4 linked regions of the Homo sapiens genome follow. The protein of the gene in region 1 purifies or fractionates together with the protein of each later gene. This does not show direct contact. Each region holds a gene or a part of one and is shown in the gene's direction. Other genes may lie near its edges. The genes, in order: PDCD2L, SLX4IP, PRMT3 and COA7.

Region 1 (7,971 bases):
AGACCTGCACGTCTCAGCCTCTGGGGCAGGGTGTGCTTCCCTTCAAGGGGTTTAGGGATCAGGACTCTCTTGGAGACATTCCTTGGTGTTTTCTGCAGGTCTTTGAAGGAAATCGCCCAACCAACTCTATTGTGTTCACCAAGCTCACACCATTCATGCTTGGAGCCTTGGTCGGTGAGTGAGTAGGGGAAAGGTCCTGGCTTGGGGTAGGTTGGAATGGGCTTGTGGAGCCCTGATGTGCCCTGTCTGTCACTTCTGCAGCCATGTATGAGCACAAGATCTTCGTTCAGGGCATCATCTGGGACATCAACAGCTTTGACCAGTGGGGGTGAGTTGCTCACTTAGGGGAGGGCCGGGAATACCTTTGTGTCGGCTCAGGGATTTCAGTAGCAACGTTAGAGCCTTCCTCATACCACTCTTCCCTTCCCTTCCCTTCTTGGCAGAGTGGAGCTGGGAAAGCAGCTGGCTAAGAAAATAGAGCCTGAGCTTGATGGCAGTGCTCAAGTGACCTCTCACGACGCTTCTACCAATGGGCTCATCAACTTCATCAAGCAGCAGCGCGAGGCCAGAGTCCAATAAACTCGTGCTCATCTGCAGCCTCCTCTGTGACTCCCCTTTCTCTTCTCGTCCCTCCTCCCCGGAGCCGGCACTGCATGTTCCTGGACACCACCCAGAGCACCCTCTGGTTGTGGGCTTGGACCACGAGCCCTTAGCAGGGAAGGCTGGTCTCCCCCAGCCTAACCCCCAGCCCCTCCATGTCTATGCTCCCTCTGTGTTAGAATTGGCTGAAGTGTTTTTGTGCAGCTGACTTTTCTGACCCATGTTCACGTTGTTCACATCCCATGTAGAAAAATAAAGATGCCACGGAGGAGGTTGTAGGCTCAGCCTCTGATTTTTTTTTTCCTGTGATGGTGCTTTATGTAGCAGAGGGCAGGAGCGCTCAGCAGGACGCAGGCTGTGCCTCTGCGGACACTTAACACTAAGTGGTGAGCGGGTCTAGAGTGGAGCAAGGTGCCCTGAGAAGACAATAGTGGGGTGGGGGCACAATCAGTCAGGACGGCAACTTGGCCTGTGTCACCAAATCCCAAGACTGTTTTCCACTCCTCACCTCTGTGACTGCAGAAATTGGATACTCTGTTCACTCGATGGTTCTAAAAACTGCATTGAGATTATGTTTGTTTCGGGTGAATTCCTGGACAAGACCGAGGATGACTGCCATCTCCTGGCAAGACGCTCAGGTAGTTCTTTTGCTTTAAAAGGCAGATATTGAAAACTGGAATTTTTTTTTTTTGAGTCTCGCTCTGTCACCCAGACTGGAGTGCAGTGGTGCAATCTCGGCTCACTGCAACCTCCGCCTCCCGGGTTCAAGCTATTCTCCTGCCTCAGCCTCCCGAGTAGCTGGGATTACACGGCGCACACCACCATACCCAGCTAATTTTTGTATTTTTAGTAGTGAAGGGGTTTTACCATGTTGGGCAGGCTGGTCTTGAACTCCTGACCTCAGGTGATCTGCCCGCCTCAGCCTCCCACAGTGCTGGGATTACAGGTATGAGCCACCACGCCCGGCCCATTTTTTTTTTTTTTTTGACAACTTTTTTTTTTTTTTGAGACAGGGTCTTGTTCCATTGCCCAGACTGGAGTGCAGTGGCATGATCACAGCTCACTGCAGCCAGTAATCCTCTTGCCTCAGCCTCCCAAGTAGTTGAGACTACAGGTTGTACCACTATGCCCTGCTAGTTTTTTCATTTTTTGTAGAGAGACGGGTCTTTTTTTTTTTTGAGACGGAGTCTCGCTCTGTCGCCCAAGCTGGAGTGCAGTAGCACGGTCTCAGCTCATTGCAAGCTCCGCCTCCCAGGTTCACGCCATTCTCCTGCCTCAGACTCCTGTGTAGCTGGGAGTACAGGCACCTGCCACCATGCCCGGCTAATTTTTTATATATTTTTTTAGCAGAGACAGTGTCTCACTGTGTTAGTCAGGATGGTCTCGATCTCCTGACCTCGTGATCCGCCCGCCTCAGCCTCCCAAAGTGCTGGGATTACAGGCGTGAGCCACCGCGCCCAGCAAGGCGGGTCTTGCTGTGTTTCCCAGACTAGACTGGTCTTGAATTCCAGGGCTCAAGAGATCTCCCACCTCAGCCTCCCACAGTGCTGGGATTACAGGCGTGAGCCGCCACACCCAGCCTATTCAAAATTTTTTTTTCTTAGAGACAGGGTCTTTGTTGCCCAGGCTGGACTGCAGTGATACAATCATAGCTGACTGAAGCCTCAAATTCCCAGGCTAAGGTGATCTTCTCACCTCAGCCTTCCAAGTAGCTGGGTCCGCAGATGCATGCCAGTACACCCAGCTCATTTAAAAAAAAATTTTTTTCTTTTTTGAGAGTCTTGCTTTGTTGCCCAGGCTGGAGTGCAGTGGTGTGATCTCGGCTCACTGCAAGCTCCACCTCCCGGCTTCACGCCATTCTCCTGCCTCAGCCTCCCGAGTAGCTGGGACTACAGGTGCCCGCCACCACACCCGGCTAATTTTTTGTATTTTTAGTAGAGACGGGGTTTCACCGTGTTAGCCAGGATGGTCTTGATCTCCTGACCTCATGATCCGCCTGCTTTGGCCTCCCAAAGTGCTGGGATTACAGGCGTGAGTCACCGCGCCCGGCTCATTTTAAAATTTTTGTAGATCAGTGTACTGTTGTAAAAAAAAAAAAATAAGAAAAATAAAAAATAAATTTTTGTAGTGATAGGATCCCACTGAGGCCAGAGAATAGGGTCTGGAGACAAAGGAGCATTCACTTCAGCCTCTGACTGGTGGCAGGCCAAGTCTTTATTTACATAGGGTGTAACCAAATAGGAAACCTCTAAAGGGTACTTAAACCCCAGATTTTCTACACAGGGCACTTGCTTGAGCCTCATCCCGCTTTCTGGAATGTACTTTTGCTTCAATAAATCTGTGCTTTTGTTCCTTCTTTTGTTGCTTTGTGTGTTTTGTCCACCTCTTTGTTCAATATTCCAAGAACCTGGACGACTTGTAGTCAAGATCCTCCCCTGGTAATACTACTGTGTTGCCCAGGCTTATCTTCAACTCCTGGGCTTAAGAGATCCTCCTGCCTTGGCCTCCGAAAGTGTTGGGATTACAGGCGCAAGCCACTGTGCCCAGCATCACAGGGCCTTTTAAAGCTATCAGGATGAAGTGTGGTAAAAAAAGGAGTAAATGGGTTTCATCTCCAGATCCTTGCTGGGCTAGAGCCAAACCTCACAAAGGCTGGTGCTTCCTCCTTTGAGGTGTAAATCCTTGAAAACATTCATTTCTTTTGCATACCACGTTATGAATCCTAAAATAATGTTTTTGCAGCCTGCATTTTTAAAAAGTCAGGTTTATTGGGGTGTGATTTACATATAGTAAGATTCACCTTTCTTTGGTATACAGTTATGAGTTTTCACAAGTGTATATACAGTCTTAGAACCATTACAGATGAGATATACAGCATTTTCCTCACCCTCAAAAGTTCCTGACACTTGTGGTCCAGTCCTACTCCCTCATCCCAACTCCTGACTACCATTGAACTGATTTTTTTCCCTCCGAAGTTCTGCGTTTACCAGAATGGCGCCTTTTGTGTCTGGCTTCTTCCCATGATGCTTTTGAAATTCACCCATGTTGTGCTGCAGGAATTGAAAAAACTGTATTGTGTGGCTGGGCGCGGTGGCTCACACCTGTAATACTAACACTTTGGGAGGCCGAGGTGGGCAGATCACTTGATTTCAGGAGCTCGAAACCAGCCTGGCCAACATGGTGAAACCCCGTCTCTACTAAAAATACAAAAAAGGCCGGGCATGGTGGCTCACGCCTGTAATCCCAGCACTTTGGGAGGCCAAGGTGGGCGGATCACCTGAGGTTGGGAGTTCGAGACCAGCCTGACCAACATGGAGAAACCCCATCTCTATTAAAAATACAAAATTAGCCAGGCATGGTGGCACATGCCTGTAATCTCAGCTACTCGGGAGGCTAAGGCAGAAGAATCGCTTGAACCTGGGAGGCAGAGGTTGCAGTGAGCTGGGATCACGCCAGTGCACTCCAGCCTGGGCGACAAGAGCGAAACTCCGTCTAAAAAAAAAAAAAAAAAAAAAGCCGGGCGCCGGGCGTGGTGGTGGGCGTCTGTAACCCCAGCTACTGGGTGGGGCTGAGGCAGGAGAATCACTTGAACCTGGGAGGCTGAGATGCAGTGAGATGGCGCCACTGCACTTCAGCCTGGGCGACCCAGCAAGACTCTGTCTCAAAAACAAAACAAAACAAAACAAAAATAAAAACTGAAAAATCTCAAACATATAAAACCCAAATAGAATAAATCTCCATGTGCCTGGCACCAAATTTCAACAATTATCAACTCATGGTCAATCTTACTGTATTTACACCCCACCACCTTAATTATGTAGTAGCAAATCGGAGGTATTTCATCTATAAGCATTTTGGTGTGTTTCTCTAAAAATTAAAAACTTTAACTTTTTAAAAAACTTTATTGTTCTTGTTAATGACTGATAATACCATTATCCCACCTAAAATTTTTATTTTCCGGGAAGGCTTTTTTCTGGTGGCTCACACCTGTAATCGCAACACTTTGGGAGGCGGAGGCGGGAGGATCGCTTGAACCCCAGGAGTTCAAGACCAGTGTGGGCAATATAGCAAGTCCTCGTCTCAGGAAAAAAAGGAAAAAAGAAAGTTAGCTTTTTGGCAAAACTACTTCCTAGTAGATGGTGTGTACTTCCTATCACAGCGCATTAAGGGGCACATAATGCCTGGGACTCCGGGATTTCGAGCCCCTGACGCCAGCGGCGCCTCTGTGGCTCTGGGACCTGAGCGCACGCGCCTTAAAGCCACGCCTCCGCATCGGATCCTAGTAAGGGAGCGGGGTTATCATTTTAGCGTAGCGTTGCGCGTGCGCAGAGAGGCCGCCGTAGTTTGCGTTTTCACCTGGTCGCCCGGCGGCCATGGCGGCCGTTCTGAAGCCGGTGCTGCTGGGCCTTCGAGATGCGCCGGTGCACGGCAGCCCCACAGGGCCGGGTGCCTGGACTGCTAGCAAGCTGGGCGGCATTCCGGTGAGGGCGGGTGCCGGAGCTGGGGTCGATGGGTGCTGCTGAAGGGTGCGGAGGGAGTGGGCGAGGTCCTGGGGGGAGTCGGGGTCTGAGCGCCTCCTCTGTCCCCTCAGGATGCTCTGCCCACCGTGGCTGCGCCCAGGCCCGTGTGTCAGCGCTGCGGGCAGCCGCTCGCTCTGGTCGTGCAGGTGTATTGCCCGCTGGAAGGCTCCCCGTTTCACCGTCTGCTGCACGTGTTCGCGTGCGCCTGCCCCGGCTGTAGCACCGGCGGTGCGCGCAGGTAGGCGGGGAAGTCCCAGAGCTGCTCCAGGGGTGTCCTTTCCAGCGGGCTGGGGCGGGCCGGCGGGCTGGAGTCGGGGTGCAGCCCTCACGGCCCTTTGTCTTCACCCCGAAGCTGGAAGGTGTTCCGCTCCCAGTGCCTGCAGGTGCCAGAGAGAGAGGCGCAGGACGCTCAGGTAAAGGTTGTGATTGGCATGTTATTGTTTTTCTGTCATTTGAGGATATTTTCCAGAGAATAGTTTGGGGCAGACTTTAAAGCCGTGTTCTTTGAAGTACACTGGAGTGTTTTTTGCTTTTCTGAAGAACCATAAAATGCTATTTTCGTAAAGTTTTTTTTTTTTTTTTTTTTTGAGACGGAGTTTCGCTCTGTCGCCCAGGCTGGAGTGCAATGGCGCGATCTCGGCTCACCGCAACCTCCGCCTCCCAGGTTCAAGCGATTCTCCTGCCTCAGCCTCCCTAGTAGCTGGGATTACAGGCATATGCCACCACGCCCGGCTAATTTTGTATTTTTAATAGAGACGGGGTTTCGCCATGGTGGTCAGGCTGGTCTCGAACTGCCGACCTCAGGTGATCCACCCGCCTCGGCCTCCCAAAGTGCTGGGATTACAGGCATGAGCCACCGCGCCCGGCCTTTCTTAAGGTTTTGTGAGAGTTTTTTTTTTCTTCTATTTTACTTTATTTTTATTTTCTAACTCCTTTGTTAAAAGGAGATGGAGGCCCAGCATGGTGGCTCACGCCTGTGATCCCACCGTTTTTTGAGAGGCTGAAGTGGGAGGATTGCTTGAGCTCAGAAGTTGGAGACCAGGCTGGGCGCGGTGGCTTACGCCTGTAATCCCAGCACTTTGGGAGGCCGAGGCGGGCGGATCTCCTGAGGTCAGAAGTTCGAGACCAGCCTGGCCAACATGGCGAAACCCCGTCTCTATTAAAAACAAAAACAAAAAATTAGCCGGGCATGGTGGCAGACACCTGTAATCCCAGCTACAAGGGAGGTTGAGGCAGGAGAATCGCTTGAACCCGGGAGACAGAGATTGCAGTGAGCTGAGATCATGCCACTGCACTCCAGCGTGGGTGACAGACTCCGTAAAAACAAAACAAAACAAAACAAAAGAAAAAAAAAACGTTGGGAGAGCAGTCTGGGCAACATAGCAAAACATCGTCTCTATAAAAAGTAAACAAATTAGCCAGGCATGATGGCCACGCAACTGTAGTGCCAGCTACTCAGGAGGCTGAGGTAGGAGGATTGCTTGAGTCTAGGAGGTTGAGGCTGCAGTGACCTACACTTGTGCCACTGCACTCCGGCCTGGGCCACAAAGCCAGACCCTGTCCCCTGCCAAAAAAACAAAAGGGAGATGGAGACTTCCTCCTGGATTTCTTCAACTTTTTTTTTTAACTGTAAATTGACAGTTTATAATAATGTATAAATTTATGAGGTATAAAGTGATGGCTATGATTCATGAATATCATGTGGAATAATTAAATGAAGCTAGTTAATGCATTCATCACCTCAAATACTTAACATCTTGTGAGAACATTTGAAATTTCCTCTAGCAATTTGGAGATACACAATACTCTTATTTTTTTTTTTTTTTGAGACGGAGTCTTGCTCTGTTGCCCAGGCTGGAGTGCAGTGGCGCCGTCTCTGCTCACTGCAAGCTCCACCTCCTGGGTTCACACCATTCTGCCTCAGCCTCCAGAGTAGCTGGGACCACAGGCGCCCGCCACCACGGCCAGCTAATTTTTTCATTTTTTTAAATTTTTAGTAGAGACAGGGTTTCACCATGTTAGCCAGGATGGTATTGATCTCGTGACCTTGTCATCCACCCACCTCGGCCTCCCAAAGTGCTGGGATTACAGGCTTGAGCCCCTGTGCCCAGCCACAATACTCTATTATTAACTATATTCATGCTGTGCAGTAGAACTTAAAAAAAACCCACATTCCTCCTGAATAACTGAGGTTTTGTATTCTTTGACCGTCATCTCCTTATTCTTCCCGCTCCAGGTTTCTTTCTTCCTTTTTTTTTTTTTTTTTTTTTTTGAGACCGAGTTTCGCTCTTGTTGCCCATGCTGGAGTGCAATGGCACAATCTCAGCTCACTGCAACCTCCACCTCCCGGATGCAAGCGCTTATCCTGCCTGCCTCAGCCTCCCTAGTAGCTGGGATTACAGGCACTCGCCACCACGCCCAGCTAATTTTTATATTTTTAGTAGAGAAAGGGTTTCACCATGTTGGCCAGGCTGGTCTTGAACTCCTGACCTCAGGCAACCCACCCGCCTCGGCCTCCCAAAGTGCTGGGATTACAGGCGTGAGCCACCATGCCCGGCTCACTCCAGATTTTTTTTTTTCTTTGAGATGGAGTTTCGCTTTGTTGCCAGGCCGGAGTGCAGTAGCACAATCTTGGCTCACTGCAGCCTCCGCCTCCCAGGTTCGAGCAATTCTCCTGCCTCAGCCTCCTGAGTACCTGGGACTACAGGCACACACCACCATGCCCAGCTAATTTTTGTATTTTTAGTAGAGATGGGGTTTCACCGTGTAGCCAGGATGGTGTCGATCTCTTTACCTCGTGATCCACCCGCCTTGGCTTCCTGAGGTGCTGGGATTACAGGCGTGAGCCACC
Region 2 (7,032 bases), on another chromosome or scaffold:
AGAGATTCCAAAAGCATGAAATGGGTTAATGTTGGCAAGGTAGGTAGGCTTTTACATTTTATAATTACTTCCTTATGATGCTTCCATGGGAACACAAAAGGCTAGATAGGCAGATAATCTATGAATTATATAAAACCAGAGTGGTGGTTAGTATAAGGAAAAAAGTCCCGAATTTTTTGGTAGCCAAGAATCACAAACTACAGTTTTCAAAATACCAATATTAAAAGATTTGACTGTTGCTATGGTCTTGGGTGTGATAAAATATTCTTTTTTTTTTTGAGACAGAGTCTCGCTCTGTTGCCCAGGCTGGAGTGCAGTGGTGCCATCTCGGCTCACTGCAAGCTCCGCCTCCCGGGTTCACGCCATTCTCCTGCCTCAACCTCCCAAGTAGCTGGGACTACAGGCATCTGCCACCACGTCCCGCTAGTTTTTTTTGTATTTTTAGTAGAGACGGGGTTTCACCGTGTTAGCCAGGATGGTCTCGATCTCCTGACCTCGTGATCTGGCTGCCTCGGCCTCCCAAAGTGCTGGGATTACAGGCGTGAGCCACTGCACCCGGCCACAAAATATTCTTTGTTTTTGCAGATAGAGAAAATATGGGGAATTCTTAGGATGATAAGGGTGTAGACCACTGTGTCACCAGGTCTTGCTAGAAGAACAGAGCTCACAGGCACGTTGCCCCACACAGTAGGATTCTGGGGCTTTTGTCACAGCCTGAGCCTCACAGATACCAGATATTGGCCAAGAGTTCCCAGATGGTTTGGAATCAACATTATTTGCCTTACAGTTTTGTATGTTTATGACGCATGTTAATGTATGAAATGTGGACTGGGAGTCCAAAAGAAGTTACAATTAACCATAAAGTCCTAGGTAAAAAAGGTTAAAATAGCTTACCACTGAGCAGTTTCATTCAGTCTTTACAAAAATAAATGTGTTCATTGGGGCATTCAGAGTGTAACTGTTTTCTCTCATGTTCAGCTAATAGATTTCTGGTTGAACCTTTGTTATCTTTTGGAGTAGACAGAAAGAGTTCTCCATGGAGTGTCTGATTACTTTGCTGAGTGTGCAGAGAGTTCACTTCCTCCCAGTGCAAAGCTCCGGAGAAATGCTCTGAAAGAAATGTAGGTGCAATGTGTTTCCTTTTTCTCATTTTTGCCTGTCTCTATGTATGGATAGATAACATGAAGTCCAGAATTAAACAGAGTGCCTGGAACTGAAGCACAAACTCCCCTCCGTCACGTACTTACTCTCCCCTCCCTCCTGACTCTCTTGCTTTCTGGACAATAGGGATAGAATCCTTGCTTCACAGGTGTGTTGCAAGGAGTAATTAATGACACGTTCTTTGAAGATGAAAAGCACCTGTTGGTGGTGTGTTTCATACCACTTTCGGAGGGACTACAGACAGATCTAGAAAAAAAAAAATTCCTTTCCTAGGATCCTTGTTCCGACTTTAATATAATTACGATAATCCTCATGCTCCTGGTGTCAACAGTAAGAACATGAATATTACATGTATTTGTTTTCACACTGAAGCTAGCCGAAATAAATATTTCAGCTTTCAATGTTTTGGTGGTTGAGGAAATTTCTTGCCATTCACAAACCTGTAAATATATGCTGAAGTTAACATCTTTAGTCTCTAATTCTCCCTGTGCAGCTTCTATCCTGCCCCTCAAAGTTCACTTTATCATCAGAGTGAAGTTACATTGTCTGTTGTGCACGCTGTAAGGAGCAAGGGGCTTATATACAGCTATATCGACACTCTTTTGTCTTCCACGATTGTATTTTATTGCCTTTCATGCTGACTATCTGAAATTTCTTCCAGGACATTTCAAATTATATTAACTAAGTCCTACTCCCATTTGTTGATCAAGTTTGGTCAACAAACCTGATACCAGCTAAATGGTGGTTATATTTGGGTAACATCTTGAAATAGCCTGAGAGAAATTCCAGAAGATTTTTCTTTACTCACAAGTAGAAATTGTGTGTATGTGTACATTTGTGTACACAGAGCCTGAGTCTACTCCTGGAAAAAAAAAATCAGTATATAGGCAGTACTGACCCTTAACATTGGAAATGAATACCTATTTACCTTAGTTAAAATGTGAACGCCATCATAAATCCATTTTTAACCCAATGATTGATAAGCAGTATCATGTATAATGGAATATGTGAAGGTTTTTGCTTGATTCAGTCTGCATTTAAACATACACCTGTGGTGGGGAGTGTTTCCAGATTTGCTGGGGAAGCGAGAGGGCAGGTAGTGCCTGCCTCCTTTTTCAGGTGTAGGAAATGTGGTAGAGGGAATCTGGAGGAAACAGTGCAGTGACAGCTTTACAAACCATAAAATCATTTTTGTTTGTTTCAGTGTGAAAAGAACTGAAACAAAAAGCAGTGTCACGAGCAAATCGCAGACCAGAAGAGACACTGTGGAAACATCTAGTGACTCAGTGATTGCAGAGATAGCAAGGAGGAGGAATGATGGTCAGGCTTCCTCCAGTCCCCCATCAGAATCCATGGGACAAGCAAAGGATTCCATAAAGGCAGCTGAGAGCCACTGGGGGCTTCCTGTTCAAAAGCTGGAAAAAGTTAATCAGACCCAGCCAGAAGACACTAGTGGCCAGCAAAAACCTCATCCTGGGGAGCGGTTAAAGACAGGGCTTCTAAGCAGGAGCCCCGTCTGTAGCTGTGAGTCAGCATCACCATGTCCAAAACAAAGTCCACGAGTGGCCAAAACCCAACAGAAACGCAGGAACTGCAGCTCTGCGGAAGACTTCGACCACCACGGGAGAGTTTCTCTTGGAAGTGATCGATTAGTCCCGAGAGAAATAATAGTGGAAAAAAGCAAAGCTGTCAGGGTTTTGCCAGCTTCAGAGTTGTCAGATCCAGGGTTACTTTTGAAACAAGATTTGGCAAAAACCACGTCTAAGGAAGAGTTGCATGTTTTGGAAAGTCTCTCCTCCAGACATCTTATGAAAAATAACCCAGGGCAGGCACAGCAAACCGGCTTAGCCACAAACACTGAAAGATTATCTACAATTCAGAACAGCCCAACCAAGAAAAGAAAGAAATACGAAAGAGGCCATTAACACCGAAGAGGTTTGTACCGTTGGAGTTGAGGACATAGTGGCCAAACCTGTGACAAGAGAGCTGCGAATATAGATGCCGGGATTTTAAAGGAATTAATTAGAATGACTAATTTAAATAGGAAGTGTGTTATCTGTGTTATGGCTATGGTTTGTTTTCAAAGCATTTCAAACCGGGAGGCTATATGCTTGTTCTAACAGCGTTGCTTCTTTATCATTGTATTTTATGACTGTCTTCAGAGAATTAGTAATGACAAAGAGCCATCCACCTTGTCAGGGAGGAGACTGTGCAAGGACTGCATGAAGAAACTGATCATGAGCCCCTTCTTGGCACATCACTGTGCAGACCACACAATGGACCGTGCAAAGACAGTGCTGCCGTGCTGCCTTTCAGCTCCAGGGGTACAATCCATCCCCCTGCTCCTCAGCCTGAGTAGGAGGGCAGTGAAAGAACAAGCTAGTGGTTCTTAGCGCGTGGTCCTGGGACCAGCTTCGTTGTCTGGAAATGTGCTAGAAATGTGGTTATTGGGCCCTGCCCCATGCTGAGTAACTGCCTTTGGGTGATTCTGAAACATGCTCGCGTTTGAGAACCACTGGACTAATAGAACACTCCCCAGTGCTTCCTGCAGCCTGGTTGCCATGGCCTCCAGCTCACCAGTTGGGGCCAGATGTGCACATGCATCCCCTCGGACTCCCTCAAACTCGTAAAACACTTGGGTTTGGTGTATGGGTCACTCTCTTCCGGGTTCTACAGTATGGCAGCCATGGCACCCATGAAGGTGTTACTTTCCCTTATAATTGTTGAAGTCGATGGGCGATTCTGCCCAACCTTAGGAGAAGACATCAGAGAGGCTCGTTGTTGCCTGTAGCTCAAGCATGTCCCAGTCCCTGCTCTTGCACCCACCTCCAGGATTTTGGTTTGGGACAGACTATAACCTAACAGGAACTCAGTGACCAGGTTCCAGTTTCCCAGTTGGAAGGCTTCGCAGGCAGTTCAAATTTCAAGATGGGAGCCTTCCCTTTACAATGTCACCCACTGTCTCCAGTGGGCTTGATGAAATGTCACATAGTGAATTGTAGCAATGACTTATTTTGGATGGACACCCGCTAAAAGTTTCCAATAACCGAATTTCACTCTAAAAGAGGAAAGAAACAATATTCAAGGTCCATTCATTCAATACATCTTTTTTTTTTTTCTGTTCAACATGGGGTGGTCCTTTGAAATGGCACCTCCCCTAAGTAATAAGGAAAACCAAGTATATTCCCTAAAGTGTTGAAGTTAGCAGAAAAATCACCCAGAAAAGCCCAAAACAATGACAAGAGTACAGAAACAGGCATAGTGTAGGTTCATGCTTGAGATGGATTAGTGGTTTATTCCATCCCGTTCTATCCTTTCCCGTATCTCCTGTCCCCACTTGTTAAGACCAGTAAGACTCATGAAGCAGCAGCTATATTTCATGGCACCATTTTGGGTCATGAAATTCCATCTTGGTCACCAAGCCTGACTGTGGTGGTAGATACTGTTACTTTAATGTTCCAAACCCTGCCTAGAAACCTGTTCCTGTCCCATGATCCCAGCCTCACCACCCCCACTTGAAACAGCCCTTCCTACTGGTATCCTGTCCTCTTCCCTCTTGGCTTTTTTCCTGCTCCCAGCGGAACCCAGTCAGGGGATTCTATAGGAGAAGAGGGAGCCCAACAGAATACTAACTTCAGTGGAGCTGACTCTGCTTATACAATAGGGGTGGGCTGCACAGAGTGGAAACCGAGTACCTGGTAGAATGTGCATTTCCATGGCCCACTGTAGGCGCCTCTCTTAGAGCAAACAGTATTTTAGGTGTGCTCTTTATTGAACACAGGACCACAGTGTGTCACTGAATCTTCTTAAACAGAAGCAATTAGAACGATTTAGATATAGGGAGGGCACAAGTAATAAGTAACCCAGGGGATAGACCAAGAAGCAGCTCTCTGGAAGAGTCTGGAATTAAAAAGACGGCTGTACTAGAACAGTAGCCACTGCCTGCTCCAGAACTAGGGGGGAGATATTTGAGCTGGAGCCACCAGAGAACATTTCTATTGAGAAGTTTTTATTTGTTTGTTCTGTTGGTTTTTTGTTATTTCTGTTTTCTTCTAATCTTTCTCTGAAGTATCACTCTGGTATTGAGAAATTTTTATTTCATTAGCTAACCTGGGCTTGGTGGTTAAGGCTAGTACTTGTACTTAGAATGATTCTCTGTCAGGAAAAGTCTTGGCTTTAGAGTTTGTTATAGTTGGGGATATAACAATTACTGTGATCGAAGAGAAAAAATAGCACCTTTGGTTGTAGATAGATGTAGTTTTCCTCACAGCCCTCACGTCCCTTCATGTAAAAGGGATTTTAACAGGATTTACAGAGGGAATGGCTCTCAGTTCCCACACTGTGACATGTGTTTGAGGAATTTTGCCTTTAAGCATTTTTCTTGCACATGGCTGAAACACCCCTGGCTCTCTTGTTATTTGAGTGGTTGCATGATTCTTTGGATATTTGGAAGTACAAAGGGGTAAATGGATGCCAGGGGTTTTTTGTTGTTGTTGCTTATTAGGTAGGATATGAAGAGTTCTCACTGTTGGGAATGGTATGTGTTTTGACATTCTTTTTTTTTTTTTTTTTTTTTTTGAGACAGAGTCTCGCTCTGTCGCCCAGGCTGGAGTGCAGTGGGGCGATCTTGGCTCACTGCAAGCTCCGCCTCCTGGGTTCACGTCATTCTCCTGTCTCAGCCTCCTGAGTAGCTGGGACTACAGACGCTCGCCACCACGCCCGGCTAATTTTTTGTATTTTTTTTTTTTTTTTTTTTTTTTTAGCAGAAACGGGTTTTCACCGTGTTGGCCAGGGTGGTCTCGATCTCCTGACTCGTGATCCGCCCGCCTCGGCCTCCCAAAGTGCTGGGATTACAGGTGAGAGCCACCGCACCCGGCCTGTTTTGACATTCTTAATGATCTTAATAATTTGGCATCTGAAAGTCTGAAACAGTGTCAGTATTGTTAGTCAAAAAGAACAAGTTCTTCAACCACTTGCGTAGTACCCCAAATTATATTCAAGTCCCTGTGACTCCAATGCTTGGAGAAGTCATTGATATGATTTGATTAATGTTATAACTTTGAATTTCCTAACTTTCTCAGCGGCATAGATTCTAAGCCACTTCCATGTGCTTTCAGATGGCATCTTAATAGATTGGTGTTGAGGTTATTTTAATGTCCATAAACAAGAAAGGTCTGGGAACAATCTGTATGATTTTTCTTTCACATTTTCTTATCTTTGCCACTGGAGGTTAACTGTCGTCCAGATATGCATATGAATTGTGAAATGCAAAGAAGCAAACATTTGGGGGTAGGGGAGTAAGTGCTGTAGTTCTTTTGTTCACTTATTTTAATACTATAGAAGTGTATTTCATTTTATAAAAAGCAAGAATCATAAAAACCCTCTGTATTTTGATTTATGAAGAATATAGCTTCTCTCTGAAGTATCTCAAGATATATCTTGGGGACCACAATGGGATCACAGTGTAATTGTTTGCTGTTGGTGTCATGTTTGGATTTTAGCATGGTTTGTTATGCATGTCAGTGGCCTCTGATTTCAGAAAGAGCTTGGCGAGGGCAGAACACATAAGGGAAGGAAACCTCTGCTCAAGAGAGTGGCCTGGGATCACAGTGTCGTCATTCCCAATTTCCTTGAATTCCTTCTTGGCAGACCTTACTGTAATATTACACAAAACTGTAATGAGTGGCCCTCCTTTGGAGGTAACAGATGCCTTTCCTAAGAACTCAAAGTTCTCTTTTCAGCGTGCTGTGACTTGAATATGGAAATCATTTTAATTTCTTCTTTTCTCTTATGGGGAAATTTCCATGCTTGGTTTGTCAAGACAAGAGAATTCATTCCTTATTATTGAAACATTAATGAACTGAAACACGT
Region 3 (7,032 bases), on another chromosome or scaffold:
ACTTCTATAAACAAGACAGCTTACATATTTTTAACACTCAAAAGGCAATGTAAATGAAAGAGCAGCAACCATCAGAACAAATGTACAAAAATGAAATATTTACTAGCAATACCTCATATGCTTCAATGAGAAAAGAAGTAAGGTAAATGCACCAGATTTTTTAGATGGTAGTTAAATAAATAGTACTTATCTCCTCTGATTTGAAATACAAATCAGAGCAATCACGTTTTGGTTGTTGTTTTTCATTTACTCTTTTGTTGATGAAGATGGCAGGAATGTAACACTGGAATATATTTCATACCTTTTATGAAGGAATTATACTTCTGATAATCCATCCTAAAGAATCAATTCAAAATTCAGACTTAAAAAATACTTGTTACACAAAGACACTGCTTTAATTTGCTTTTCTTTCTTTAAACTATCTTGCTTTATAGAATTTTTTTTCATTTTTTATAGTCACATCTGTCAACCTTTTGCTTTTGGTGTCTGGCTTTGGTTTCATCCTTTAAAAGATTATATTACTACTTTTGTACAATGTATTGAATCCTTTCCTCAGTGACTTAAAATGCTCCACTTACTATGTACTGAGTCTTCATAATTGATCTTATTTCTCTCATTTGTCTGTGTTTATTCCTAGGCACCACATTTTTAAACAAATAATTTACATATAATCAAAATTCACACATTTTGATTGTACAGCTCATTGAGTTTTGAAAATTACATATACCACTGTGGAAATATAGATTATTTCCATCACTCCAAAAAGTTTCTTCTGCAATTCCCTGTATGGTCAGTCCCCAACCGTGATTCCCAGACCAAGACAGTCACTGATATGCTTTGTCATTATATGTTAGTATTACCTTTTTAGAATTTTTATCAATGGAATTATACAGCATGTACTCTAGCTTTCTTGGCATTTTTTTTTTTTGAGATTCTTCTATCATTAGGTTGTTCCTTTTTATTGCCAAGTAATATTCCTTTGGCTATGCCACAGTTTACTTAGGTATTCACCTGCTGCTAGACTTTTGTATTGCTTTCAGTTAGGGGCCATTAAGAATAAAGTTGCTATGAATATTCATGTAAAAGTCTTGGTGCAGACAGATGTTTTCATTTCTCTTGGGTAAGTACCTAGAAGTGGAATTACTGGGTCTTATGGTAAGTGTATATTTAACTTTATAAGAAACTGGCAAATTTTTTAAAAATGACTATGCTATCTAACATCCCTAGGGCTAACACCATTGTGAATTCAGTTGTTCCACATCATTTTTAACACTTATAAAAAAGATGCAGTATTTTAAGCCGTTTTGAGTATGTAGTTATAGCTGTGCTTGTAGTTTTCATTTGCCTGATGTGATGTTGGGCATTGTTTCATATGTGTATTGGCCATTTTTATATCTTCTTGTGAGATTTCTGCTCAGATATTTTGCTTGATTTCAAATTGGGTGGTCATCTAATTGAGTTAAATTTAAAAGTTAATAATAGTTCATCTTTTCCCAAATGTATATTCACTTGCTCCATCATCATTTCTTAAAAAGACTATCCTTTTCCGATTTAATCGCCTTGGCTCCCTTGTCAAAAATTAATTGACCATATGCATATAGATCTACTTCTGAGCTCTCATTTTCCCCCAGGGATCTGTATGTCTGTCCTTGTGCCTTTAAGACAGTCTTTATAAGATTGAAAAAGAACAAAATGGCAAGATTTACACAAACAGTTGTTTTGGCTATTCTAGGTCCTTTATATTGCCATATAAATTTTAAAATCAGCTCATTAATTTCTGGCCTAAGAAAGCCTGTTAGGATTTTGACTGGGATTTTGTTAAATCAATAGATTAGGGAAAATTGACATCTTAACAACATTGAGTCTTTCACTCACGAGAGAGTGGGTCTCTCCATTTATGTGGACCATCTTTAAAGTTGTTTTGTAGTTTATGTAAGTCAGACATATATTGTTACATTTATCTCAAGTATTGTATGTGTGTGTGTGTGTGTGTGAGAGAGAGAGAGAGAGAGAGAGAGAGAGAGAGAGAGAGCGAGAGCGACTGAGACTCGGTCTGTCGCCCAGGCTGGAGTGCAGTGGCATGATCTCTGCTTACTGCAACTGCCACCTCCTGGGTTCAGGCCATCCTTGTGCCTCAGCCTCCCAAGTAACTGAGACTACAGGTGTGCACCACATGCCTGGCTAATTTTTGTGTTTTTAGTAGAGACAGAGTTTTGCCAGGTTGGCCAGGCTGGTCTCGAATTCCTTGTCTCAAGTGATCCGCCCACCTTGGCCTCCCAAGGTGCTGGTATTACAGGCATGAGCCACCACACCCAGCCTTTATGCTTTTTTGAAGCTGTTGTTTGTAGTATTATATAAATTCTTCATTGCTAGTACGTAGAAATAGAATTTTTATACCTTGATCCTAAATCATAAGACCTTGCTTAAACTTCAATAAATAGTTCTAGTAGCCTTCTTTGCATATAGCTTCAGGATTTTCTATGTATAAAACCAGGTAGTATGCAAATGAAAACTTTAATTCCCCCTCCCCCAGTCTGTATCCTTTTTCCCTCCACACTTTAATGTCCTGACTAGGACATCTAATAGAATACTTACTTTATGTTGGGTCTCTGGAGGTCATTTTGTTATTTTTGAATCTCAAGTGTCCATTATCTGTCTTTTCATATGTGAACTACTTTATACCAGCAACTAAATTAAGTAATTTGTATAAGACATACTGCTTGTAAGTAAAAAGGAACTAACAAGCCACTGTGTTGTAAAAATCAAGTTTGTTGATTCAGTGTTGGCAATTCAATAACAGTAAGTTAAACCCAATAACCAAGTTGGCAATTACTATTCTCTGTCATGTATTTACAAAAACATTGTCAGTTTATCATAATGTGGCTGTTCGTTCCCAGTTTTGGTGTCAATAAATAACTTAAATAGAAGTTTTTAAATGTTGATTTAAAAAGAAGCAAATAAAATAGCCAAAATAGAAAAGTCAAAATAGGAAAATCTTAAATGTGTTCAATATACTAATGATCTTTTATTTCTTCCTTAGGTTAATGCCTTAGATAAGAAAACGTGTATCATTGTTCATTAGTTATTATAGAATAATAGTTACATCAACTTACATATCAATTGTGTTTATAAACAAGTAAATATTTTTACCAAAAAAAAAAAACAAAACCCACGGGGCGGTAAAATTTAGGTCTATTTCTTATTCATTATAGTATATTTAAAGCTATAATCATCATTTTTTTAGATAGAGATAGGGAAGCACCAGAGTATAGTTGAGGAACTTGGGTTCTGGAATCAAACTGCCTTGCTGAAAATCCTAGTTCTTTCACTAGCTGGCAGATGACCTTGGGCAAATTACTTACCTTTTCTGAACTTCATCTGTGAGTAAGGAAAATGCGCTTACCTCATAGCAATATTTTGTGACCATTAAGTGAGATAAATCATGTAAAGACCTTAGAGTAGAGCCTAGCACAAAGTAAGTGTTGAATAAATATAAGCATAAATTATCTAATGATTAACCTGAACTCCATAAAGTTTGTAGAACTATCTGACTGGTAATCTTTATTATGTCCACTATTGGTGAACATGTCATATGAGATAGTTTTATATCATTTTCTTAATATAGAGGAATAGGTCAGATATAAAAGCTAAAGCCAAATATACACATTAACATATATACGTACACAAAAATTGTTATATTTTGTTGAATGGATTGCACCTTGGGCCACATTATTTCTTCTATTATTTAACTCCTTAATTATGTGTTAAACTGTGAGTCTCACCTTTTTTGCAAAGATGTAGAGAAGGTATCAGTAATGGAATCTTTATATTCTGAAAATAAATATAACAGGTGGTTATGTTTTACTTGTGTTATTTCACTACCATCTTGAAAAGCATTCAGATAATTTTCCTTGAATATGGGGAATTTGTATTTTTTTAAATACGATATTCATTCAGTACTTCAATAGTTTTATGTAGATTTCCTTGGTCATTATATGGAGCCTCATTGTGTCCATGCAGATGCTAAAGCTATTCCTGACACTGTTTGGTGTTATCTTAATATTATTTAAGCAAAGAATGGTGATCAACTACAACTTAGCAATTTGTTACTTTTTAAACAGCTCTTTAAAATAAATGAAAAATTAAATGAGAAGTATTTATAATTAGAAAAGTACATAGATAAAAATTTGGAACCTACAGAATTTAGGAAATCAGCCTTTGCACAGGTAAGTAATTTTTGTGTGTTCACTGTTTCACATGGGTACATTGTTTCCCTTTTACAGCACCAGTGCATCAATGGCCAATGGCTTTGTCATGTGCCTCTACATTTTCCCAGCTATAATTTTCAGTTCCTCAAAATGCCATTCCTGAAGGTTCTGTGTATGTGTTTTCCTTAAATACCATTACATGTACATCCCTTAAGCCTGGTTCTCCATGACTTCAGCCCTGGCATTGGGTAATTCATTAATTCTTGTGAAACCTTGCCTTTAACTGCCTTCCAACCATCCCCAGTGCTCACCTCCAGCACACTTTAGACACATGCCTATTGTGTAATTGTTAGTATAGCTTTTTTCTTCACCCTGATCACAAACTCTTTGAGGGCAGGGACCATATCTTTTTTCTAGATGCCCAGAACCCACCATAGGGCCTCATATTTAGAAGTTCAGTAAAATGCTTCCATTGACCCTTTATGACCACAATAGTTTTACTCACTTTCACAAGGATTTGACACTGTGGTATGTAGTTAGTTCTCGCTTCATTCAAAAATTAATGAAACAGGGCTGGGCGCAGTGGCTTACGCCTGTAATCCCAGCACTTTGGGAGGCTGAGGTAGGTGAGCGCATCACCTGAGGTCAGGAGTTCTAGACCAGCCTGGCCAAAATGGCAAAACCTTGTCTCTACTAAAAATACAAAATTAGCAGGTCATGGTGGCGCATGCCTGTAATCCCAGCTACTTGGGAGGCTGAGGCAGGAGAAATCACTTGAACACGGGAGGCAGAGGTTGCAGTCAACTGGGATTGTACCACTGCACTCTAGCCTGGGCAACAGAGAGAGACTGTCTTAAAAAAAAAATTAATGAAACATAATGCTGCTCTAAAAAATGAATATTGGCTGGGCACAATGGCTCATTCCTGTATTCCCAGCACTTTGGGAGGCTGAGGCGGGTGGATCACCTGAGGTCAGGAGTTCGAGACCAGCCTGGCCAACATGGTGAAACCCCATCTCTACTAAAAATAAAAAATTAGCTGGGCATGGTGGCATGCGCCTGTAGTCCCAGCTATTCGGGAAGCTGAGGCAGGAAAATCTCTTGAACCCAGGAGGCGGAGGTTGCAGTGAGCCAAGCTTGCACCAGTGCACTCCAGCCTGGGAGAATGCAGTGAGCTGAGATCACACCACCGCACTCCAGCCTGGGTGACAGAGTGAGACTCCATCTTAAAAAAAAAAAAAAAAAAAAAGAATATTAACCTTAAATAAAGTTTAAAAAGTGGGAAAACATCACAATAAAAAGAAGTGCTAGTTATACATTGTTTACTTTTCTGCTACACTGTATTCCTTGAATTCTTAACAATTTTTGCCTTTGTTTTACAGGTGAAGCCTTGAAAGGAAAGGTCACAGTTCACAAGAATAAGAAAGATCCACGTTCTCTCACCGTGACCCTCACGTTGAATAATTCAACTCAAACTTATGGTCTCCAGTGAAACAGCCATAAAAGCACACTACCTTGTAGTTTTTAATGTGGGGGTAGAGTGGGTCAGCAGGAGGGAGCTGGTTTTATGTGAGCAGATGGATGGATGATGGACCCTTTCCTAATGAGCCTCCTCAATAAGAGAGAAGTTCTCATTGTGGGAATCTGACATAGTTCAGCTGAGGAAGAGAATCAGCTGATCCTCATGGTCTGCCACGTAATCATTTTCTTAGACGTTTGCTCCACCAGATTTAACCAAATGTAACTCCCACATTGAGTTTATCTATATTGAAAATCATTTACATTGGCCTATATTTGGAAGAGAGATAGTCTTTTGTTTTTAATAAGTTTCTTACTATAAATTTTAAACAAATTGGTTAGTTATTTGGATATTTTATTAAACTAGTAACACAGGTACTACACATTTTATTATGGACTCCTCTGAGGAGGAGTTTTTAATTGTATTTGCTAGAAAATCAGGATGTAATAAAGATTTGTATAAAAAAACTAAAATATGGAAAAGAGCTTCAGCCTTCATATACAAATCATATATGCAGACAGCCTAGTTGATTATCTAGCATACTTAGGGTTCTCATTTTGTAGTTTCTTCCCTCTTTGTGACTATTCCTTAGCCTTATAGATTTCTAGTACTGCCCAGGAAATCTAATTTCAATACATTTATCCTAGGTTTCATGAAAGTTTTTAAAGATTGGGATAAATATGTACTTATTTACTAACGTATTATCTTTTTCAAACCAGATTTATGTGCAAAGGTTAAACATGTAACTGTTACTAAGCAGTCTATAAAGTTGTCATTTACAATTACTGATTCAATTTGAAATGTAGAATAAAATTTTAATAAAATGTATCAACTTATAAAATATTTTAAAAATATTGATATTATAAAAGTTTTCAATAAAATATATCAAACAACATTATAAAATATTTCAACAGGGTATGGTAGCTCATACCTATAATCCCAGCATTTGGGAGGCCAAGGCAGGAAGATCACTTAAGCCCAGGAGTTTGAGAGCAGCCTAGGCAACACAGGTCTGTACAAAAAATTCTTTTAAAAAAATTAGCCAGGCATAGTGGTGCATGCCTGTAGTCCTAACTACTTGGGAAGCTGTGGTGAGCAGATTGCTTGAGTCCAGGAGTTGGAAACTACAGTAAGTCAAGATCGTGCCACTGCACTCCAGCCTGGGTAACAGAGAAAGACTCTGTCTCTAGAAAAGTTAATTAATTAAAAGTAAAAAACAGGGCCAGGCATGGTGGTTCATGCTTATAATCACAACACTTTGGGAGGCCAAGGCAGGAGGATTGTTTAAGGTCAGGAGTTCAAGGCC
Region 4 (4,431 bases), on another chromosome or scaffold:
ATTGCTTTAGCCGGAGGTTGAGGCTGCAGTGAGCCGTGATCATGCCAGTGCACTCCAGCCTGGTTAACAAAGCAAGACCCTTTCTCCAAAAAAAAAAAAAAAATTCACTGACTTTGGCCTGAGACATTTAGGTTGTGCCCTGGCTTGGGTTTATTTTTTCCTACTTTCCTTCCTCTCAGGTGGTCTGACCCAGGACCTGAAAGCTGCCGCCAGGTGCTTTTTGATGGCGTGTGAGAAGCCTGGAAAGAAGTCAATAGCAGCATGTCACAACGTTGGCCTCCTGGCACATGATGGACAGGTTAATGAGGATGGCCAGCCTGACTTGGGAAAGGCCAGGGACTACTACACAAGGGCCTGTGATGGTGGCTATACTTCCAGTTGCTTCAACCTCAGTGCCATGTTCCTGCAGGGTGCCCCAGGCTTTCCCAAGGACATGGACCTGGCATGTAAATACTCCATGAAAGCCTGTGACCTGGGTCATATCTGGGCCTGTGCCAATGCCAGTCGCATGTACAAGCTGGGGGATGGTGTTGATAAGGATGAGGCCAAGGCCGAGGTGCTAAAAAATCGAGCCCAGCAGCTACACAAAGAACAGCAGAAAGGTGTCCAACCCTTAACATTTGGGTAATGTGGTCCACCCTCCCTCCCAGGCAACAAACTGCTTGAGGCTGGCAGCTCCTGTTTCTGAAGACTGATGCAGCCCTTGAAGGTCAACCTGCTGGAGCAAAAAAACTTGGGACTTGAATTTGTAGCTCCATTTACATGGATCCATTGCCCCAGCTACTGGAGTATAGCCTACAATGTTTATTTCAGTCAATATTCCTTTATCTGGGTGTTCTGTACAATGTTTATTACAGTCAATATTCCTTCATCTGGATGTTCTGTGAAGATAGCCATGTTTATGGGGGTCTTAGTTTTCAAACTCTGGCAACTCTGTGAAAAATAGGAGCAAACTAGAGAGCCCTGGAGATTGGTAGTAGGGAAGGGAGGATAGCAGGAAGTTTGAAAAATTAGCAGCCCCGGGGCCTAAAGGAATCAGCTGTCATCATTTTCATCATTATTATTTTGGTTAGGATGGCTTGAAAATCAGAACGTATCTTGGTTTACGTAATTGAGGTCTTAAAGAACTAAGAACAGTTAAATAGTCACAACTACCACCCTCTGACTTACATAATCATTGGTGTGGGCTTCGTTTTGCCTTTAGAGTCACATCTTTCAGTAAATTCACAGAGATCAAGAGGGACGTGCAACATACAGCTTAAAGGCTGTTATGCTTCAGGGTTGCTGAAGAAGATGAAACATCAGCCTGCCATCGTCTAGAAGAGACATTGGCAGTTAAAAATTAGCACCTCCAGTGTAGTCGCCTGGCACTGCCCATCATGCTGAGGGAGCAGATTCTTCCCAAGGCAGCTTCAGCTAGGAGTTTGTAAGCAAGGACTTTGTGACACATTTGTCCCCTGGAACTGAGCCTTTTTAACTGTCCCTGTGAATGAACAATTTTGAGTGACCTACGGTTTGTGTTAATTAGTGTTCTTTCCAGATTCCAGGTACCGTAGAGAGTATGTTCTTTGTGGTGGTTGTGCCTTTTAAGAACATTTGTGGCCGGGCACGGTGGCTCACGCCTGTAACCCCAGCACTTTGGGTGGCCAAGGCGGGTGGATCACGAGATCAGGAGATCATGACCATCCTGGCTAACACGGGGAAACCCCATCTCTACTAAAAAATACAAAAAATTAGCCGGGCGTGGTGGCAGGCGCCTGTAGTCCCAGCTACTGGGGAGGCTGAGGCAGGAGAATTGCTTGAACCCGGGAGGCGGAGCTTGCAGTGAGCTGAGATTGCGCCACTGCCCTCCAGCCTGGGCGATAGAGTGAGACTCCGTCTCAAAAAAAAAAAAAAATTTGCTTTTTCTGTTGTCTCCCCAGCTTGTCACCAGGGGGCGAGCTTGCCATTTCCCTGCTGGTAACAATACCATTCTGTCACCATCTACTGTTTTAGGCTTCCGTTTTGCAGCCGTCCTGAAAGGAAGGCTTGCTGTGTAAATGAAGGCTTGTGAGCACAGCAGCCAGCCTCTCAAGTTGATAGAGGACAGGGACTTCCCCAAGTGCACAGAGGAGATTTCAAAAGACATCAAATTCACTTTTTAAAAATGTAAAGTAGCTTTTGGTGTGCTTAAACTAGGTCAGGCCAGGCGTGGTGGCTCATGCCTGTAATCCTAGCATTTTGGGAGGCCAAGGCAGGTGGATCACTTGAGGTCAGGAGTTCGAGATCAGCCTGGCCAACATGACGAAACCCCTTTCTCTACTAAAAATATAAAAATTAGCTGGGCGTGGTGATGCATACCTGTAATCCCAGCTACTTCGGAGGCTGAGGCAGGAGAATCACTTGAACCTGGGAGGCAGAGGTTGCAGTAAACTGAGACTGTGCCACTGCACTCCAGCCTGGGCAACACAGCAAGACTCTGTCTCAAAAACAAAAACAAAACTAGGCCAGGTGCAGTGGCTCACGCTTGCAATCCCAGCACTTTGGGAGGCCGAGGCAGGCGGATCACGAGGTCAGGATTTCGAGAACAGCCTGGCCAACATAGTGAAACCTCGTATCTACTAAAAATACAAAAATTATCTGGGTGTGGTGGTGGGCACCTGTTGTCCCAGCTATTCAGGAGGCTGAGGCAGGAGAATCGCTTGAACCCAGGAGGTGGAGGTTGCAGTGAGCCAAGACCATGCCATTGCACTCCAGCCAGGTAACAGAGTGAGACTCTGTCTCAAAAAAACACACACACACACACACACAAAACTGTAGGTCAAAAAACATGAAAATATGTTCAACATCACTAATTAGGGAAATGTAAATCAAAAACCACAATGAACTCTTAAAATTCAACAGTAAGAAAACAACCTGATTAAAAACAGGCCAAAACCCTTAACATATCTCAGCAAAGAAGATAGACAGGTGGCAAATAAGCATATGAAAAGATGTTCCATATAACATGTCATCAGGAAAATGCAAGTTAGAACAACAGACCACTATACAACTATTAGAATGGCCAAAATCCAAAGCACCGACAGCATGAAATGCTGGGAAAGTTGGAGCAACCAGAACTCTTATTCCTTGCTGGTGGGAACGCAAGATGGCACAGCCACTTTGGAAGACAGTTAAGCAGTTTCTTACAAAAACTAGGTAAGCTCTTACCATGTGATCCAGCAATCTTGCTCTTTAGTATTTACCTGAAGGAACTGAAAACATGTCCACACAAAAACCAGCACATGGATGTTTATAGCAGCTTTATCTATAATTGCCAAAACTCAACCCAAAATGTCTTTCAGTAGGTAAATGGGTAAATAAATTGTGGTGCATGTAGTCATTATTCAGTGCTTAAATCAAGCTATGACAAATTATGAGTTATCAAGCTATAAGAAGTCACAGAGGAACTTAAATGAATGCTACTAAATGAAGCCAGTCTGAAAAGGCTTCATATTAAATGATGCCAACTATATGACACTGGGATGTATTCTGGAAAAGGCAAAACTATGGAGACAGTAAAAAGCAGTGGGTGGGGGAGGGGAGGGAGGAATAATTGGAGCACAGAAGATTTTTAGGGCAGCGAAACTACTCTGTATGATACTATAATTATAAATACCTGTCATTGTACATATGTCCAACCCCCTAAAATGTACAACACCAAGAGTGAACCCTAATGTAAACTGTGGACTTTGAGTGATAATGATGTGTCAGTGTAGGTTCATCAATTACTGCAAATGTACCTCTTTGGTGGGAGATGTTGAAAATGGTGGAGACTATGCATGTGTGGGGACAACAACTATATGGGAAATCTCTGTACCCTCTCAATTTTGCTGTAAACCTAAAATTGCTCTAAAATATAAAGTCTATTAAAACCACAATGATATTGCCTCATATCCCATTAGGATGGCTACTATTAAACACCAAAACAAAGTAAGTGTTGTCAAGGATACAGAGAAATTAGAACCCTGTGAACTGGTGCAGCTCCCCCAAAATGAAAAACAGAATTGCCGTTTGATCCAGCCATTCCACTTCTGGGTACATATCTGTGTTAGGCCATTCTTGCATTGCTATAAAGAAATACCTGAGACTGGGTAATTTATAAAGAAAAGTTTAATTGGCTCAGGAAGCATGGTGCTGTGCATCCTATTGGCTTCTGGTGAGGCCTCAGAAGCTTACAGTCATGGTGGAAGGCACAGGGGGAGTCAGTGTATCACATGGTGAGAAGGCAAGAGCAGGAGCAAGAGAGTGAGCAAGGGGAGATACCACACACAAATCTCCTGAGGACAGCACCAAGGGGAGGGTCCTAAACCATTCATGAGAAATCCTCCCCATGATCCAATCACCTCCCACCAAGCTCCACCTCCAACATTGGGGATTAAATTTCAACGTGAGATTTGGGGGACAAGTATC

Evidence for each region.
Region 2: the proteins of PDCD2L (region 1) and SLX4IP purify together in Homo sapiens (affinity purification with mass spectrometry; 3 studies listed by BioGRID and IntAct, with this or other methods). This does not show direct contact.
Region 3: the proteins of PDCD2L (region 1) and PRMT3 purify together in Homo sapiens (affinity purification with mass spectrometry; 4 studies listed by BioGRID and IntAct, with this or other methods). This does not show direct contact.
Region 4: the proteins of PDCD2L (region 1) and COA7 purify together in Homo sapiens (co-immunoprecipitation; 2 studies listed by BioGRID and IntAct, with this or other methods). This does not show direct contact.

The regions. Positions count from the first base shown.
Region 1 is NC_000019.10:34,399,458-34,407,428, forward strand, and holds the start of PDCD2L (programmed cell death protein 2-like), read left to right. Parts: upstream 1-4,941; 5' UTR 4,942-4,973; coding exon 4,974-5,081; intron 5,082-5,191; coding exon 5,192-5,358; intron 5,359-5,472; coding exon 5,473-5,533; intron 5,534-7,971. Other genes in the region: GPI (glucose-6-phosphate isomerase), read left to right, coding at 99-174, 262-328, 444-579. UniProt on the Homo sapiens protein: Over-expression suppresses AP1, CREB, NFAT, and NF-kB transcriptional activation, and delays cell cycle progression at S phase.
Region 2 is NC_000020.11:10,620,294-10,627,325, forward strand, and holds part of SLX4IP (protein SLX4IP), read left to right. Parts: intron 1-1,020; coding exon 1,021-1,121; intron 1,122-2,365; coding exon 2,366-3,086; 3' UTR 3,087-7,032.
Region 3 is NC_000011.10:20,502,715-20,509,746, forward strand, and holds the end of PRMT3 (protein arginine N-methyltransferase 3), read left to right. Parts: intron 1-5,589; coding exon 5,590-5,699; 3' UTR 5,700-6,624; downstream 6,625-7,032. UniProt on the Homo sapiens protein: Protein-arginine N-methyltransferase that catalyzes both the monomethylation and asymmetric dimethylation of the guanidino nitrogens of arginine residues in target proteins, and therefore falls into the group of type I methyltransferases.
Region 4 is NC_000001.11:52,683,917-52,688,347, reverse strand, and holds the end of COA7 (cytochrome c oxidase assembly factor 7), read left to right. Parts: intron 1-179; coding exon 180-628; 3' UTR 629-3,899; downstream 3,900-4,431. UniProt on the Homo sapiens protein: Required for assembly of mitochondrial respiratory chain complex I and complex IV.